2 separate regions of the Homo sapiens genome follow, and region 1 is linked to region 2. The links come from fine-mapping of genetic effects on gene expression. A gene starts in region 2. The other region holds a variant in brackets. All regions are shown on one strand. Distances are between the middles of the regions. Region 1 holds the start of FXYD3 (FXYD domain containing ion transport regulator 3). Region 2 holds the start of SYNE4 (spectrin repeat containing nuclear envelope family member 4).

Region 1 (8,322 bases), 890 kb before region 2:
GCCTGCAGAAACGCTCCCAGCCTTGAATAAAGAGCAACGAAATTATTGAAACAAAATCAATAAAAGTTTGAATCAGGGATGGTATAACATGCTCTGGCTTTGATTCTGTGCTTTAATTCAGCGTTCCTGAAAAACTTATGATGTCAGAAACTATCTGTAGGTTTGGTTTTTTTCATTTTGCAAGAATTCCCAGGATATGGAGAAATCACAGCCACTCACAGCCTTAACAGGTTCTTTGGGCCCAAATGATTCCAAAAGCAAAACGAGAGAAACTTTTTCAAATATGTTTATTATGTATATTATATACAATATATTAATAAAACATATTACCTACATGCATTTAAAACATAACTGAAGTCAGATTGGCCCAGAAGACTCACTCCAAATGAGACCTAATCCCCAATAGGGTGCAAGTGACTGCACAAACTCTACTCCTCACAGCCCTTCCTAAGACTCAGTGTGCTCATCACACTAGGGTCTCAGAGTCCTTCTGACCATAAACCCAAGCCCCAGCGCCAGCCCAACACACACTTGGACGCAGCATGTTCACGTCCAGCCTAGGAAGAATTTATGGTTGACCTGGATTGGGTAAAAACCGTAAACGTCTGTACCTCAGAATGTAAGATCATGGTGTTTAAAACTACAGAACATTCAGAGGTTGTCAGAAGTCTCTAATTGCTGGTCCCCCAGGTTGAAACCAGCCCTTAGGTTGAAATTTTGACCTGCAAATTTTTTTTTAAATCTGAACCAAATTTTTTAAATTAAACCCCTTTAAGGTAGTACATTTTCAAGATGCAAAATTCAAAAAATATAAGAGGGCACGTGATAATGAGTGAGTCTCACTTCCACCCCACCCTCCAGCCTCCCAGTTTCCCTCTCCAGAAGCCATGGGTATGGATGCCAATCTCCAAAAATATTTTATTCATTACAAGTATATACATATGCATTATTTTACCGCTCACAAATGGTAGCACACTGCACGGTTTCCCAATACCTTGTTTTTTTTCCCCTTAGCAAGCTGTCTGGGAAATACTTCTGTATCTAACCACGGGCAGGGGTGTTCCTCCAAGATTTTTAGACAACAGTTCTCCAGTTCACCCCGTTCCGGTGAAGGGCAGAGCACCCCCCGCCCTTCCCAGCCACCCTGTACACGCCCCTACTCGCTCTCGGATGCCTGCAGTTCCCAGGCTTCCCAGCAGAGGGAGACACCATTCCACTCCCAAGACCACCAAGGGGTCGTCCCAGACACAAGCTTCAAGGGTCTAGGGAAGAGACGCTATCCGCCCAGACACAAAGACCCCCCTTAGCTATACTGAGTTGGCCTCCGGGCCTCCCCTTCCTGTTTCTATCTCCTCCTGGACCTGTTGCTTAGAGCCCTACCCCGAGGTCCCCCCGCCCGGCTTCCTTATGGGAACTGGCCCCGCCTTAAGAGTGGTAGGAGGGAGCCTTACCCTTGTCTAGGACCTGGGCTTGACAACTTGCCCCAGGGAACCACATAGAGAAGGGGTGTAGCGCTGGGCGAACATTGCCCTCCCCGATCCCTCAGCGATGACAAGTGGGGGGTCCTTCTCTCTGCCCCCAGCAGGCCAGTTTCCGGAAGAGCCTTGACCCAAACCCCCTTTTCCTGTCCTGTGCTCCACACTCCCAGCAGCTGCTTCTCCCTGGCCAGGCCCTGCAGCCCTCCTCCCCGCCCCCACGGTGGTGTTGGGGTCGCCTGGAGTCCAGCTGGTGTCCAGGGCAGAGCTACCCCTTTCCTGGCCCTACCCCTCCCCGTGACCCCAATCCTCCGCCAACCGCTCAAAGGATCCTTGTTCTCCATCCAGCCCCCAGACAAAAGTCCCTCTGTCTAAGAAGGCGGAATTGAGGGGAGGGGGCACCCCCAACTGGGACCATGGGGGAGCCTGCACAGACCCCATCCGGAAGGAATGCCTGGAGGAGGAGGAGCAGGAGACAGGGGAGGAAAGGGGGAGGGAGGCTTGTACAGTGCTGGGGGCCTTATGTGGACTAGGAGGCAGCCGCCCCCACCAGCACCCACTCTGTAGACCCAGGCGTCTGGCTCCCAGCACCCACGGAAAGAGCCTGGCTAGGAAACTGCAGCCTGGTGCCTGGCAGACAGTTCTCATTCTCCCCAGGGCAGGGAGCAGGTTATGACCAGGACTAAGGTCCCAGAGTCCCCACCCTGACCCCTCCCTGCTGTTCCAGCCGCTCCCTCATATCCACCCCTGCCCCATCTCCTGACTTTGGTCACGCTAGCATCTTCTGCTGATCCTGAAATTGTACCAGCGGCAAGATGTGGCCTGGAAGGGGACTTTAAGTTCTCCACAACTGCCAGCAATCCTTCCACCAGGCAAAACACATCATCTAAGGAAAAGAAGTGAGGTCGGAACACCAACGCATCATCTCACTGCATGGCCCTGGAGGCTCTGCCGTTTAAAGACCCCAGAACCTTCCCCATTCAAGGTCCTCTCCTGGGCACAGGAGATTGGAGAAAGCTCCTCCCTTAATTCCAGGGGCCGAGTTCCAGCCCATCCAATTCTCCGTCTCACCTGAGGCTGCTGTGGTCCTGGTGACCCCAGGGAGCAACCTGCCGCCCATGGCTGGGGAGGGGGTGAAGCTGTCTCTTTAAGAGCAGGAATGGAGCCCCTGGGCCTCAGGGCATCTGACTTGTTTTCTACCTGCCCAGGTTTGCTTAGGGCGTGGCAGCTTCGGATAAACGCAGGACTCCGCCTGGCAGCCCGATTTCTCCCGGAACCTCTGCTCAGCCTGGTGAACCACACAGGTGAGCAGCTGGGGCCCCTTCCTCCAAGCCCTCCTTGTCTCTGCCCCTAAATTAGGAAGTATCTACCTGCCCCCTGACCCTGCCCCATAGAAGCTTTTATGTTAAAGCGCCTAAAATCTTGTGAAATGCTTTTCTGGAGCCAGGAGATAAACGGAAGTCCCTTCCCCTAATGTCCCTTTCCCCACCATTCTCCTCTCAGGGACTTGTTGAACCAGCTGAGGTGAGGGCAGGACTGATAAGTGTGGTTGGGGTGTCTGAAAGACTAGTGTCTGCATGGATTAGGGATATCTGGGTTGGGGATAGCTGGGTGGAGGAGAGGGGGTGCCTGGGTAGGTAGGGGTATCTAAGTGGACCAGGGGTGCGTAGATGGACTGGGGACATCTGGGTGGATGAGGAATGCTGGGTGGACTCGGGGTGTCCAGACATTGAGGGATCTGGGTGGATAAGGAGTGCTGGGTGGACTCGGGGTGTCCAGACATTGAGGGATCTGGATTCTGGAGACCTCCAGGAAAAAAGGATGGAGCTGCTGGGGGAAGCTTTAAATGGGGAGTTGCTTGGGAGATTTCAGGAGCACACAGCGGGCAGGATCTTTCTACCCACCCCTGAACATGAGACCATTCTCCCATGGTATGGAGGAATAGAGGGGATAGCAGAGGGCAGGTGGGGGAAACAGTCCTCAGGCCGGCCTTGGGACCTCATGGCCAGGAAGGATGAGAGCAGGTAGACAGAGCATCAGCTGCAGGGCTGCCTTCCTCTCTAACCTGCTCACCAACCACATCAGTTCGGGAGCAGCCCACAGCCTCTTCAGACAACAGCCTGAATGGGGAACGTGAGGGCAGACCCAGCTCCCGGCTCCCTGCAGCCTCCGGAAGCATGGGACTGGACGTTGTTTTGCAGAGGCTGGGGCGAGGAGGATACCATCTGTCAGTCTTGGCTGGATGACATCATGGGAAGGGGGTATAGTGGGGCCTTGCAGGCCAGAGGTGGCTTGGAGGAGCCCCTGGAAAGAGGCTTAAGAGGTGAGACTCAACAGCCATGGCGACAGAGCATAGGGCTTTAAGATGAATTTGCAGGGGTTACAGGATTACAACTGCAATGTGGGCTAATAATAGTGCCCCCTGCATTAAGCTGCAGAGATTGAGCGAGTAAGTGGGAAGCTGAGAAAATGCCCCCATGGGGTAGACACTCAATAAGCATCTGCTGTTATTACCAGGACTCGTATGGTCATGGGTGACAGCTTCAGACCACAGGCAGTCCACCTACAACCTGTGCCCCTATCCAACATGCCATCCTGCCCACCCACCCACGCCAGCTCCCCCAACCCCCAACACTTTTGGGGATCCTAAACACTTCCTGGGCCTCAGTAATGCTCCCCAAAGCCTCAGGCTTTCTTCCCGCAAAAAAAGGAAAAGAAATGGATGCTCCAACTAAAATTGTGAGTTCAGCATGTGGAATTAACTGGGAAGCTGAGAGGATTCCCAGGCCCTGGGGTGCCAGGCAGAGGGAGGAGTCTGTGCCAACCTGCAAGGACCACCCGCACCGTTGGTTGCGGGCACCACCCTCTCTCAGCATTTTTGCTGTTCGTGAAATGAGGACATAGTGGACGACGTCGGGGATTGCTGGGGGGTTAAGTGAGTGAGAACACGGCAAGGTCAGTGTGCACTCCAGGGCAAGGTGGAGGAAGTGCCAGCTCTCGCTATCAAAATTATAACTAGGCCAGGCGTGGTGGCTCACACCTGTAATCCCAGCACTGAGGGAGGCCGGGGTGGGTGGATCACCTGAGGTCAGGAGTTGGAGACCAGCCTGGCCAACACAGTGAAACCCTGGCTCTACCAAAAATGCAAAAATTAGCCGAGACTGGTGGCACA[C/T]GCCTGTAGTCTCAGCTACTCAGGAGGCTGAGGCAGGAGAATCACTTGAACCCAGGAGGCAGAGGTTGCAGTGAGCTGAGATTATGCCATTGCACTCCAGCCTGGGTGACAGAGTGAAACTCCGCCTCAAAAAAAAAAAAAAAAAAAACAATTATGATAACTATGCACTCAGCATTTGGGCAGGGACAGGGCAGGGACAGGGCAGGGGAGGGCATGCTCGGAGGCCAGGGCTTGGTGCAGCCTTGCAGGCTGGTGAGAGGGCAGGACTGATGCCAGGTCAGGAAGGAGAGAGAAACGAGTTCCTTATGCTGAGCAGGTCTACCTGGGAAAGAGAAAGTGTTTGCTGTCACCAGGAACTCTGCTGGGCCTAGGGTAGGGTCAGGGGCTGGGCTGGGGACCCCGGCTAGGCAGAGCCAGGGCTGGGACCGGGAAGGGCATGGGTGTGGGATGAGGGGCAGGAGGTTCGGGGGAACAGAGATGGAGCTAGGGCTGCAGCCAGGAGGTAGAGTCCCCCTCTACCCCCAGTCCCAGCCTCACGTCAATTCCTCCACACACCACCCCACCCCCAAGCAGCTTGAAGAACCTGCTCAGTCCTCAGCCTGAAGTCTGCAATGTCCTGGCAGGGCCGGGCAGGCTCTGAGCGGTCTACGGAGACACTCCTGGGAAGCGGGCCTCCTGCCGCCTGGCTCCCAATGCCCCGCTTCCCCAAACACCCCAAGGCCCTGACAGTCCCTAGTTAGGAGCAGCTGCTGGGGAGCCAGGCCTGGCTTAAATCCTACTTCCTGGCTAGAGCACCTAGTTTCACCTCTCAGAGCCTCAGTCTCCCCATCTGTCCAGTGAGGACAACAGCGGGCAGTGGCGCCCTTGTTTGGTTGCGGGGCGATTCCCAGAAAGCCTGAAGTCCATGTCCAGTGAGTTATTATGGCTCCTCCCGCCTCAGGCCCGAGTTTCACCCAGTCCCCACTCCACGGTGCAGCTGCGGCTTATCTCTCAGCCCAGCGAGATGCCAGCCTTCCTGTCCCGGGTGAGCTGCGCACCCTGCCTGGGGAGCAGGGGAGGAGGGTTGGGGAGCCACAGGCACAGGGCCAGCCTCCCGGTGGCTCTGCTAAGGCCAGACCTCCCGCCACCCCTCTAGGCCAGCGCTCTGACATGCAGAAGGTGACCCTGGGCCTGCTTGTGTTCCTGGCAGGTGAGTACCCATCCCCCGTCTGCCTTTTCCTCTGGATCCCCTGGATGCGGGGATCCAACCTCTGTCTCTCTCCTGTGCTTTTCTACCTCCCCGGGAAGGTGGTAAATGTTAGAACAGCATCTCCCTGAGGGTAAGAAAAGTCAGACTAGTGATAGCCGGGGATACACGAGAAGAGCTGGCTCACACAGCTGGAAAGTCACCGTCTTCCCCATTCTCTCGATCTCTTCTTTTTTTTTGGCTTTTTTTGTTTTTGTTTTTGTTTTTGTTTTTGTTTTTGAAAGGGAGTCTCTGTTGCTCAGGCTGGAGTGCAATGGCGCAATCACAGTTCACTACAGCCTTGAACTCCTGGGGTCAAGCGATCCTACTCTCTTAGCCTCCTACACAGCTAGAATGCCAGGCACACGCCACCATGCCCAGTGCATTTTTGATTTTTTGCAGAGACGAGGTCTCACTGTGTTGCCCAAGCTGGTCTCAAACTCCTGGCTGAGTTTGATCCTCCCACCTCAGCCTTCCAAAGTGCTGGGATTACAGGCATGAGCCACACTGCACTGGCCTTGATTGACTATTAAACAGAAATAACGGAAGCTAGAGAAGATGATGAAATGACACCTTCAAAGCACTGAAAGAAGATAACTGCCCTGCCAGTTCTCTAAAAACTTCAAGTAGAAGGCTCAGCTCAGTGCGACTGCATCTTTAACTTCCAAACACTTTTCCCTTTTTTCTTTTCTTTTTTTTTTTTCGGAGACAGAGTCTCGCTCTGTTGCCCAGGCTGGAGTGCAGTGGCATGATCTCGGCTCACTGCAACCTCCACCTCCCAGGTTCAAGCGACTCTCCTGCCTCAGCCTCCCAAGTAGCTGGCATTACAGGCGTGTGCTGCCATGCCTGGCTAACTTTTGTATTTTTAGAAGAGACAAGGTTTCACCATATTGGCCAGGCTGGTCTCGAACTCCTGACCTCAAGTGATCCTCCTGCCTCGGCCTTCCAAAGTTTTGGGATTACAGGCCTAAGCCACTGTGCCCAGCCCGCTTTTTACTTTTTCACTGCAGCCTTGACCTCCCAGGCTCAAGAGATCCTTCCACGTCAGCCTCCCAAAGCTCTGGGATTACAGGCACACTTTTTGTCCATTACATAGGGCAAGACCAGTATTCCCTGCAGGGTAGTGATCTAAAATTACATTTTCAATAAAGTCTATTTAAGTGTATAATAGTGAGTCATTTTCAATGATGTGCAAACACCAGACCAGGTGGGTGTGGACATGGTGGAAGCGGGAGGATGGGCTTTGAGCATGATTGGACTTGGGGAAACAGGAATCTGGGAACTGAAACCATCTGTCGTCTTGACCAGAAAAGTCCCCCGCTGCTGCAGGAGGCATGGATTAACCACGTGTCTGGAAACATGAGACCAAATAGTGGCTAAAAACCTCCTAGATTAGAACCCATTTCAGGTGGCAGAATGCTGGCGTGACTCGGAGGTGTGGGGCTGAGTGGGCGAGTCCACATTTCCTCGTTGGGATATGAGGGGATGAGGTGGCTGCTCAGTGACAGGACCCCTGTCCCGCAGGAGACCCTTTCCCAAGGCCCCTGAAACTCCCCAGGCCCTGCCCAAAGGCTTGGCTGAGGCCGGCATCACCATCTCCCCTCCTTCCCCTCTTCTCCCACTAGGCTTTCCTGTCCTGGACGCCAATGACCTAGAAGGTGAGTCAGACTGGACTCTCACCCGTCACACCCCCAAATTCTCCCCTGGGTGGGGAAGGCCTGCATCCTGGCTGTAATCCTGGATTCATGATCTTTTTTCTTTCCTTGCAGATAAAAACAGTCCTTTCTACTATGGTGAGAGCCCGTGCCCCCTTTCCCCTCCCCACAACCCCACATACTGCTTGGTGCCAAGGGTTCCCATACAGGGTTGGGGCCTGACGTGAGCATCACAGGACAAAGATACGAAGGGACTAGGATGGGGTTACTGAATATGCCACACAGTGGATTAAAGGAACTAGAGGCAGCAACCTGGCCTTTGGGAAGGTTCTATTCCAGCAAGATAGACACACGCAGGAGGTGAGGACAGTTTGCAAGAAGCCATTGGTTGGTTCAGATCAACTGCTGGGAGAAGTGTTGACTTGAGAAAACTTCCTGGAGGTGGTGAGCTATTGGATCAAAACCCTCATCTGGCCTCCAGGTTCCAATGACCTGCTCCCTACTCCCCGCTCTGCCCTCACCTCTCCACGCTCCTCATTCCTTCTGCTCCAAGCCTCTCAGACACAGCAGACATACTGCCAGCCTCAGACCTCTGCACCTGCTGGTTCCTCTGCCTGGAACACTTCCTTCCACAGAACCACATGGCTCCCTCCCTTCCCTCTGCTCAAATGCAGCCCCCTGAGAGGCCTTCCCTGACAACTCCCTCTAAAAGAGCTGCCATCTGACTTTTTTTTTGTTTTAGAGACAGCGTCTCACACTGTTGCCCAAGCTGGAGTGCTGTGGTGTAATCATAGC
Region 2 (8,270 bases):
GGGGGAGGGCCAGGATAGGGATGTCATAGAGATGAGATTCTGGGGGAGCAGAGAGATCTCACAGGACAGACAAAGGCAGAGCCAAAGAAACCAAGAGAGGAGAGAATTATTTATTCATTCATTCAATAAATGTGTAATGAGTTTCTGTTACAAGCCAGGAACTGTTCTAGGAGCTGAGGACACAGTGGGGATGGAAATAGGCAAATTCCTGGCCTCCGTGGAGCTTATATTTGACAGGAGAGAGACCATAAATTAATAAGTAAATGAGGCCTGGTACAGTGGCTTATGCCTGTAATCCCAGCACTTTGGGAGGCCAAGGCAGGCGGATCACCTGAGGTCAGGCGTTCGAGACTAGCCTGGCCAACATGATGAAACCCCATCTCTACTAAAAATACAAAAATTAGCCAGGAATGGTGGTGCACACCTGTAATCCCAGCTACTCGGGAGGCCGAGGTAGGAGAATCTCTTGAACCTGGGAGGCAGAGTTTGCAGTGAGCCAGGATTGCACCACTACACTCCAGCCTGGGTGACAGAGTGAGACTCCATCTCAAAAAATAAATAAAAATTTTTAAAAATAAGTAAATGTACAAAGTCAAGCTGTGGTGAGTGCTGTTAGGAAATAAAGTAAGAAGATAGGAGTGCTCATGTTTGGAGGTCACGACAGGCCTCCCTGAAGAGGTGGCACTTCAGGAGAGACTGGGACAGTCAGGAGGTGAGTGGGGCATCATCTGGGGGCCTCAGGATAGGAGTGAATTTGAGATGGGGCTTGAGGATGTAGACAGAGACAGACGAGAGAGAGAAACAGTGAGATAGAAGGAGACACCGAGAGACAGAGATAGAGGGGGAGACAGAGCCACTGACACCTCCTTGGAAGGGCAGGATCTTGCTAGAAGGTGCGCAGAGATGTCCCCAGGGTGCCTGGCAGAAGGTCCCTCAAGGGGGTCTGCTCTCACCTCAAGGCCTTGTCCCCTGCCCTGGGGCCCCCTCTGGCCACACAGCTCACAGGGCACTCCTAGTGTCCGGGCTGTCTTTTGTCCCAAGGGCCCAAGGCCCCCAATGTCCCCCGCCGGATCCCACTCCAACTCTGTGGAAGTGGGGAGGCTACTGGGTGCCCAGGGCCCCCAGACCCCACCAGGTCCTGGCCAGTCCGAGTCTCCCTCGACCTCCAAGTCCTGGTCCAGCGTGTTGGCCTCCTCGAACACCTGGGTCAAAGGACAGAGGTCATGGAGGCTATGAGGTTGGGGCCTGGGTTGGGTGGGGGGTATCAAGATGGGCCCTACCAGGCTGTAGCTGACCAGCTGGGCCTGCAGCTGCCAGAGCCGCCGGAAGATGGAGTCTCGGTAAGCTCCCAGGGCCCGCAGGATCTGCTCCAGGGCTGCCCAGGCCCTGGGCTCACTCCGCTGTGCCAGCCCCTCACCAAACGCTAGCAGCGCCTCCACACGCTCAGCTGCCCCTCGTAGGTCCACCTGGAGGGCCTGGGGACATATGGACATCACCCCACGCACACACCAGGGACCCAAAACCTGGAGTTACCCCCCTCCCCCATTTCCTATCCAAAGGCCTGGAACATGCACTCAACCCATTTCCCATCCCGGAAAGCTGGCACCCACTGCTGGGGCCGTGCCCACCCCCACATCCTGGCCTCTCCTGCCTACCTGCAGCTGCACCATCCCACTCTGGGCCAATGCCCAGTGCCCCAGGCCTTGCTCCAGGTCCTGCAGCCGGCGGCCCAGCCCCAGCAGGCACAGGTGCAGGCTGTTCTGCTCAGCCTCTAGTACCTCCAGGCCAGAAATGGGGTGCTGGGGAACACAGGAGCCAGGTCAGGGCCAGTGGGCCAATCAAGATATCACCCCTGCTCCCATCCCCACCCCTCTTCTGTAAGCTTCTGGAAACTTCTCTGTGGCACAGTCCATCTCCGGGTCTGTCTGCACCAGGATGGCTCCCACTGGGGGGGCCTTCCCAGTGGAGCCAGGCCTGAGGACAGATATCTAGTTCAAGGTCTCCAGGTTTTCAAAGCTCCTGGAAACTTGGATGTGTGAGGCCTGGGGGGTCTGGACAGGGAGCGGGGCTGGGTACCCCCCAAGAAGAATGGGGCTACACCAGGAGCAATGATGAAATGCTTCTCAGCCGGGCGCAGTGGTTCACATCTGTAATCCCAGCACTTTGGGAGGCCGAGGCCCGAGGATCACTTGAGCCCAGGAGTTCAAGACCAGCCTGGGCAACATGGTGAGACATCATCTCTACTTTTTTTTTTTTAATAAAAAAGAAATATGGCTGGACACGGTGACGCACGCCTGTAATCCCAGCACTTCGGGAGGCTGAGGTGGGTGGATCACCTGAGGTCGGGAGTTCGAGACTAGCCTGGCCAACAAGTCGAAAACCCATCTCTACTAAAAATACAAAAAATTAGCCAGGTATGGTGGCATGTGCCTGTAATCCCAGCTACTCGGGTGGCTGAGGCAGGAGAATCACTGGGACCTGGGAGGCGGAGGTTGCAGTGAGCAGAGATCTCACCACTGCATTCCAGCCTAGGTGACAGAGAGACTCCATCTCAAAAAAAAAAAGAAAGAAAGAAATACGTCTCCCCAGTTGGTCAGATATTGAAACACTTTTCCAGAAGGTCCCTCCCCCTACAGACACCCAACACCTTTCCAGAATCATCACCCGGTCCTCAGTATGGAGGCCAGACTCCAGGGGACAGAGAGGAGGTGGGGCTGGCACAAGGGGTCTGGGTCACCTCAGCTCACCTCACAGTGTTTGCCCCCAGCTGGGTCCTCGTAGGAAGAGGGTGTTGACCATCTCGGGGGGTGAGCGGCAGGCTCATTGCCCCTTGGCCCACCCTGGAAGTGCTCAGGAGGGCCCAAGGAGTCCTGTCCCAGGGTCTGGGCCTGCTCTGGGCTAGGAGGCAGGGGGCGGTGACTGGGTGAGTCTCGACACCTCACTTTTCAGCCTACCGTCACCCCAACCCTGGTGGCCTCTCCTATGTCCCCAGGCGATCACAGCCATGGCACCTCCTACCCTCACATGGCCCCTGCCACCACGCCTACCCTTTTGGGAACAAGCTTCCAAAGCCCCGGCCCCCACCTCGTGCTCTCCTCTCCGGACGCGGGGCAGACGGTGCATCCAACAATGTCCGCCTCTCTAGGTGCTCCCGGTGGGTGGTTGAGGGGCTCTGAGCCAAGTCTAGGGCCCAGAGGCAGGGACAGGGCCATGGCTGGGGGCCTGGGGACACAAAGTCAGGTGAGGGCAGCCAGTAAGACCTCTTCCCTAGACAAGGGTGTCCCAGAGCTCCTCCGCTGGAGTCACCCGGGCCTGAGGCTGCAGGAGAGGCCCAGGACAGGTCTGGCTCCGCCCCTTCCAAGAGGAACCTGGACCCGGCCATTTGATGCCCAGCTCAGGTGACAGAAGAGTCACTTAACTCCTTCCTCCCTAGCAGGCCAGTAGCTAAATCTCCCAGCATCACTCCACGCCATCCAAGAGGGTTCCAGATAGAACCCCTGCGCCACCTCCTCAAGAGCCCTGGATTCTGCCCCACTGGGAACCCAGAAATCGGACCTCCAGGGCCTACCCCATTCATTTAAGACCCTAGATGCCGCTCCCCTCAGGAAACCAAGCATCTGGCCCCTAAAAAATAAAAATATAAAACCAAGGAAAGATTTTTTTGTTTATTTGGTATGGGGTCTTCTGTAGCTCACACAAAATTATTGGGAAAATAAATAACCCAGGGGAGCCCCCTTTGCCCACGGTTCCTAGGTCGCGGAGTCACAGCAGCCCCAAAGGGGCAGGAACCTGGGAATCCGAGGGGTCCCGGCCCTGGCGGTCACTTGCCCAGCAGGAGGCCGGCGCGCAGCACGCGGGGCACGCGGCGGATGGTCAGCGAGACCCGGGTGCCGCGCACCAGGCAGGCTCCCGGCCGCGCCGACGGGCAGGCTGCCGCATTGGGCGGCGAGGAGGCGGCGTCCAGCGCGTCTACGCGGGCGGCGGCGATGCCGTGGAGAAGACGCGTGTAGGCGGGGCCGCGGAGCACCAGCAGGCTGCGCGGTTCCAGCAGTAGCGAGGTGGTGGGCCGGGGCGGAGGCCGAGGCTGCAGGGCGGGTTGAGGGTCAGCAGGGCTCAAGAAGTCGGGGGGTGGGGGTGGGCGAGAGGTCGGTAGCCTCCGGGGATCAGCTAGTCCCCAGGGGCAAAAGCTGAAGAGCAAGTGTGCTCACAATGATGGAGGCTTTGGTGGTTCAGGAGTGAAAATTGCTGGGGCCTGGGCTGGGGCTGCTGGAAAGGGAGGGCGAGGGCTCTGCCGTCCCTCGGGAGGGGGCAGGATCTAGGTGGCAGATGGGGGCGTCAAAGGGTCAGCGGCCGGTGGGAGCTGCAGCTGGGATCTCAAAGGGGCTGAGGCTGGGGCTGGGACCCAGGAATAGGCAGTCCCCAGGAAATACAGGCAGAGCTGGGCTGAGAGAGCATGGCTGAAGCCAGGACCAGGTGAGGAGAGAGTGAGGCAGAGGTTAGAGGCAGTGGGGGTTCCCAAGGACATCAGGACATTAGAGGACAACCGCACAGCTGAGGGAGTGTCAGAGCATCCAGGAGCATGCAGGGCTCGAGGGCAAGCCTCAAGGAGTGGGTCGGCGTGTTCAGGGGCGTTTCTGTGAACACTGGGGTGCTAGAAATGCATCACTCAGAGAAATTGTGTCAAGGGGTCAAGGAGAATCTGGGGGTGTCCTGCACCCCAAATCACATTCCTGGAGTAGCAGGACGTCTGGGGCACCCTGAGCAGGGGCAGATAGAGCATCTGGGAGGAGGTGAGGCCCCCCGAGTTAATGGCGGTGGGGTATCTAAGGATATCAGTGTCTGCTGGGGAGTCAGGGGTATCCATTCAGCAGGTTGGGGCATCGGGGAGCCTGTGAAAATCATGGCATGTGGGACAGACACCCTGTAAGCAGATGGGTTGGGTGTCTGGGAGGAAGTGGGTACACCCCATGAGGGGACAAGGGAAGGTATCTGGGAGAGTGCCAGGAGTACCCCGAAGGCATGTGGGACCAGGTCATCTTGGAGGATGTGCGAGGTTGAAGTGCCTACAAGCAGCTGGGGCAGTGTCTGGGGGCCCACCTGTTCTGTAGGGTCATCGTCCTCTGGCCGCCGCGGCTCGTAGAAGTCCAGCACGGTGTGGGAGCCCAGGCTGATGGTGCTGACAGTCGGGTAGTACAGTGGTCCGTCCTCGTGGGGCTAGGGAGTGGGCACCAGGGCTGGGCAGGGCAGGAGTCCACAACCCCCACCCTCTGGGTCAAAGGGGGGCTTCCCAAGCCAGGGACAGGGAGGTGAATGCCTGTTTGGGAGATGTGGCTGCCTAATGAGTGAGGGTGGGTACAGAGTCCCCTGCCCCAGCACAGCTCAGAAGTCTGAGTGGGGGGACACGGGCCGAGGGTGTGTGGTTACCATGATGCCCTCCCCAGGCAGATACTGGTTCACGAGGACATGGTTAGCTGGGAGGCCTCCAAAGAGGCTGAGGTTTGACACTTTGTCCACGTAGCGCTGGAGCCATGGGGGCAGCCGCTCAGGAACCATCCCTCGGGGATGAGGAAGCCCACCTGGGGAAGGCAATGGGGTCCTGAGGGCCCCCCTATAGCAATAGATCCCCCATTAGGGATTCCACAGTGGCTGGAAGCACCCTGATCCTCTCAGGGACCCCTGACCGTTTGGAGATAGCCACTGGGTCCTTCAGAGGTTTCCTCACTTCTCCAGACCACAGGTCCCTTTCAGATACTCCCAACTCATCAGGAAATCCCTAATCCCTCAGGACCTCCACTGACCCCTTCAGAATCCTCCTGGCTCTTGGGGCCCCTTGAGCTGTCAGGGACCCTCTGATGTCTTAAGTCTATTGGACCTGAGTCCCCTGCCCCAGCCTACATCCCAGAATCACTCCTGCCCCCAGCCAGGGATACTTACCCCAGTTCTGTAACTTTCTCCCAGAGAGCTGGGTCCACTTTGGCTTTGGGGCATTAAAAACCTAAGAGGTGGGAAGGGGGTCACTCCTTTCTCAGGATCACCCCTCTATGATCCTCCCACCTAGACCAACATAGGGGCCTTTACCTCCGGGATGGAAATGGGTCATCTGTGTCTGTGGGACCATTCCCTGGGGCGGTGGGTTCCTAGGATTTTGTGGTTTGCCTTTTTTCCTGGGAACGCCTTTGGCCCCAAAGCCCACCTGTGTCTACCAGGATTTAGGAATCAGGGCTGCACAACCGTGGTCTGAGAGTTGTGGGTCTCACAATCTACTCAGAGTTCTGGGGCTGGACAGGGCTCTTTCAGCCCAGCAAATAGTCTGCATTCTAATTTCCTGATTCCGTGCCAAACCTGGTTGCTCATGCCTGTAATCCCAGCACTTTGGGAGGCCGAGGCGGGCAGATCACTTGAGGTCAGGAGCTCGAGACCAGCCTGGCCAACATGGGGAAACCCCGTCTCTACTAAAAATACAAAACTTAGCTGGGCATGGTGGCATGCACCTGTAATCCCAGCTACTTGGGAGGATGAGACAGGAGAATCGCTTGAACCTGGGAGGCGGTGTGGTGTCACACGCCTGCAATCCAAGCTACTCAGGAGACTGAAACACAAGAATCAGTTGAACCCAGGAGGCGGAGGCTACAGTGAACCGAGATCACGCCACTGCAGTCCAGCCTGGGCGACAGAGCAAGATTGTCTCAAAAAACAAACAAACAAAAATTCCTGATTCCTGGGCTCTCTGAGGACAGTTTGAGTTCTGCAACCGACTTGTTCCTATTGCCTGGGGGAGGGAGTATGCAAAGCTGGGCTATCTCAGCACAGCAAAGAAAGTACTTTGAAAATCTTCCACTGCCAAGATCCTAATGATCTAGAATGGGCTATCTCAGTCCAACAAGTCTAGCTCTAGTTGATAATCTACTCATTCCCTTCATGGTTATGGAGCTGTACTGGGCTATTTCAGCCCAGGAATTCTATAATATGTAGATTTTTCAATGCCAAGAACGCAAAGGTCTGGAATGGGCTATCTCAGCAAAAAAGTCTGTGTTCTGTAGCTAATTTTTTCCTGGACTCAAGATCAGTGGGTTACTCCAACACAGGGAAGATCTGTGCTCTGTAACTTAGGCACTGGGGCTGCAAAGGGCAGGAACTCTGAGCTTTGAAAATTCTTCTTTCCCCAAACCTTAAGAACAGAATGCAGACTGGGCCATCTCAGCGTAGATGGTCTGTATTTGGTAACCTTATTGTGCTCTGGGTCTATGCTGGGCTATTTTAGCACAGGAAAGAGTTTACTGGGCTATCTCAGCACAGAAATCTGAATACAAAATTCTTTACTCCCCAGTCTCAATGATCTGAACTGGGCTATCTCAGCCTATGTTTATAACCCCCTATTCTCTAAGCTAGCAGGATTGGGCTATCTCAGTAGAGGGAGTATGAGCTCTGTAACTTCCTTGTTCCTTCTGTCGGGGTCTTCACTGCAGCCTTGGGGGCTCTCATACAGAGGATGGACATTGGGGAGGAATATGGGAAGAGTGGGAAAACAGACCAGTAGGGCACTGAGGTCACCTGTCGAAGCAAATACTCCTCCTCTTCTTTGGAGATGAAGTCAGGGACATAGTAGATTACAGGTGGTGCCTAGGATAGAAAGACCCCCTGAAGGTGTGGCCCTTCAACCCACACAGAGGACATATCATCACAGAGCAACCCCTATGCCTGGAGACAGGCTCAGGATGTCCTCAGACAGGTCAGGGTCTAAAGTCAAGGGACCAGTGCCATTCCAGAATGGACTCTGACAGTAAGAATGAATTTGGTGGAAGGGGGCAGTCCCAACCCAAGAACTCAGGAATCAGCCTGCCTCCTTCACCCTCTGCACCCTGAGTTCTGACAACCTGCTCCACTCTGAACGGTTCCAGGGCTGGGACTCTGGCGTCCTGCTCCTCCATCAACACCAACTCCTTGCACCCAATCCTGTAGGGAGGGGAGGACATACTGAAGTCACTAGGCCTCCCGCCCTAACACCATGATGCAGCATTCCACCCCATCACAGGCCAGGCCTCACCTCAGCCCTCTTCTGAAACGCACTTGGTCTCTAAAATCTGAGTCTTCAGCATCTTACAAGCCACACAGAGAGCCCCTACGTTCCATGCCCGGACACAATGAGCCCCAAGAATAATCCCCCATTACTCTGTCCACTAAGGGCCCATCCAACTACACATATGCCTTCTCAATCCTCCCACAGAGAACATTCTCTGGCCCCACACACAGGGAGCCTTTCTCAAAAGCTC

What was found.
Region 1: its variant is fine-mapped to the expression of SYNE4 in aorta (GTEx, PIP 0.96).

Annotation. Positions count from the first base shown.
Region 1 is chr19:35,113,581-35,121,902 of GRCh38, forward strand. It overlaps FXYD3 (FXYD domain containing ion transport regulator 3), which reads left to right and starts at 2,243. Exons shown (of 9, transcript NM_005971.4): 1 at 2,243-2,379; 2 at 2,684-2,779; 3 at 5,783-5,836; 4 at 7,498-7,530; 5 at 7,642-7,665. The coding sequence starts at 5,797. LOC124904701 (hepatitis A virus cellular receptor 1-like) reads left to right here. Exons shown (of 3, transcript XR_007067238.1): 3 at 1-89. The variant C/T (reference allele first, on the strand shown) is at 4,648.
Region 2 is chr19:36,005,470-36,013,739 of GRCh38, forward strand. It overlaps SYNE4 (spectrin repeat containing nuclear envelope family member 4), which reads right to left and starts at 3,344. Exons shown (of 8, transcript NM_001039876.3): 1 at 3,085-3,344; 2 at 2,748-2,898; 3 at 1,656-1,799; 4 at 1,281-1,475; 5 at 954-1,202. The coding sequence starts at 3,212. It overlaps ALKBH6 (alkB homolog 6), which reads right to left. Exons shown (of 7, transcript NM_032878.5): 2 at 7,875-7,953; 3 at 7,552-7,620; 4 at 5,935-5,995; 5 at 5,425-5,576; 6 at 5,098-5,214; 7 at 3,651-4,084. The coding sequence starts at 7,928. The coding sequence ends at 3,821. RefSeq lists enhancers at 2,516-3,057, 3,058-3,597.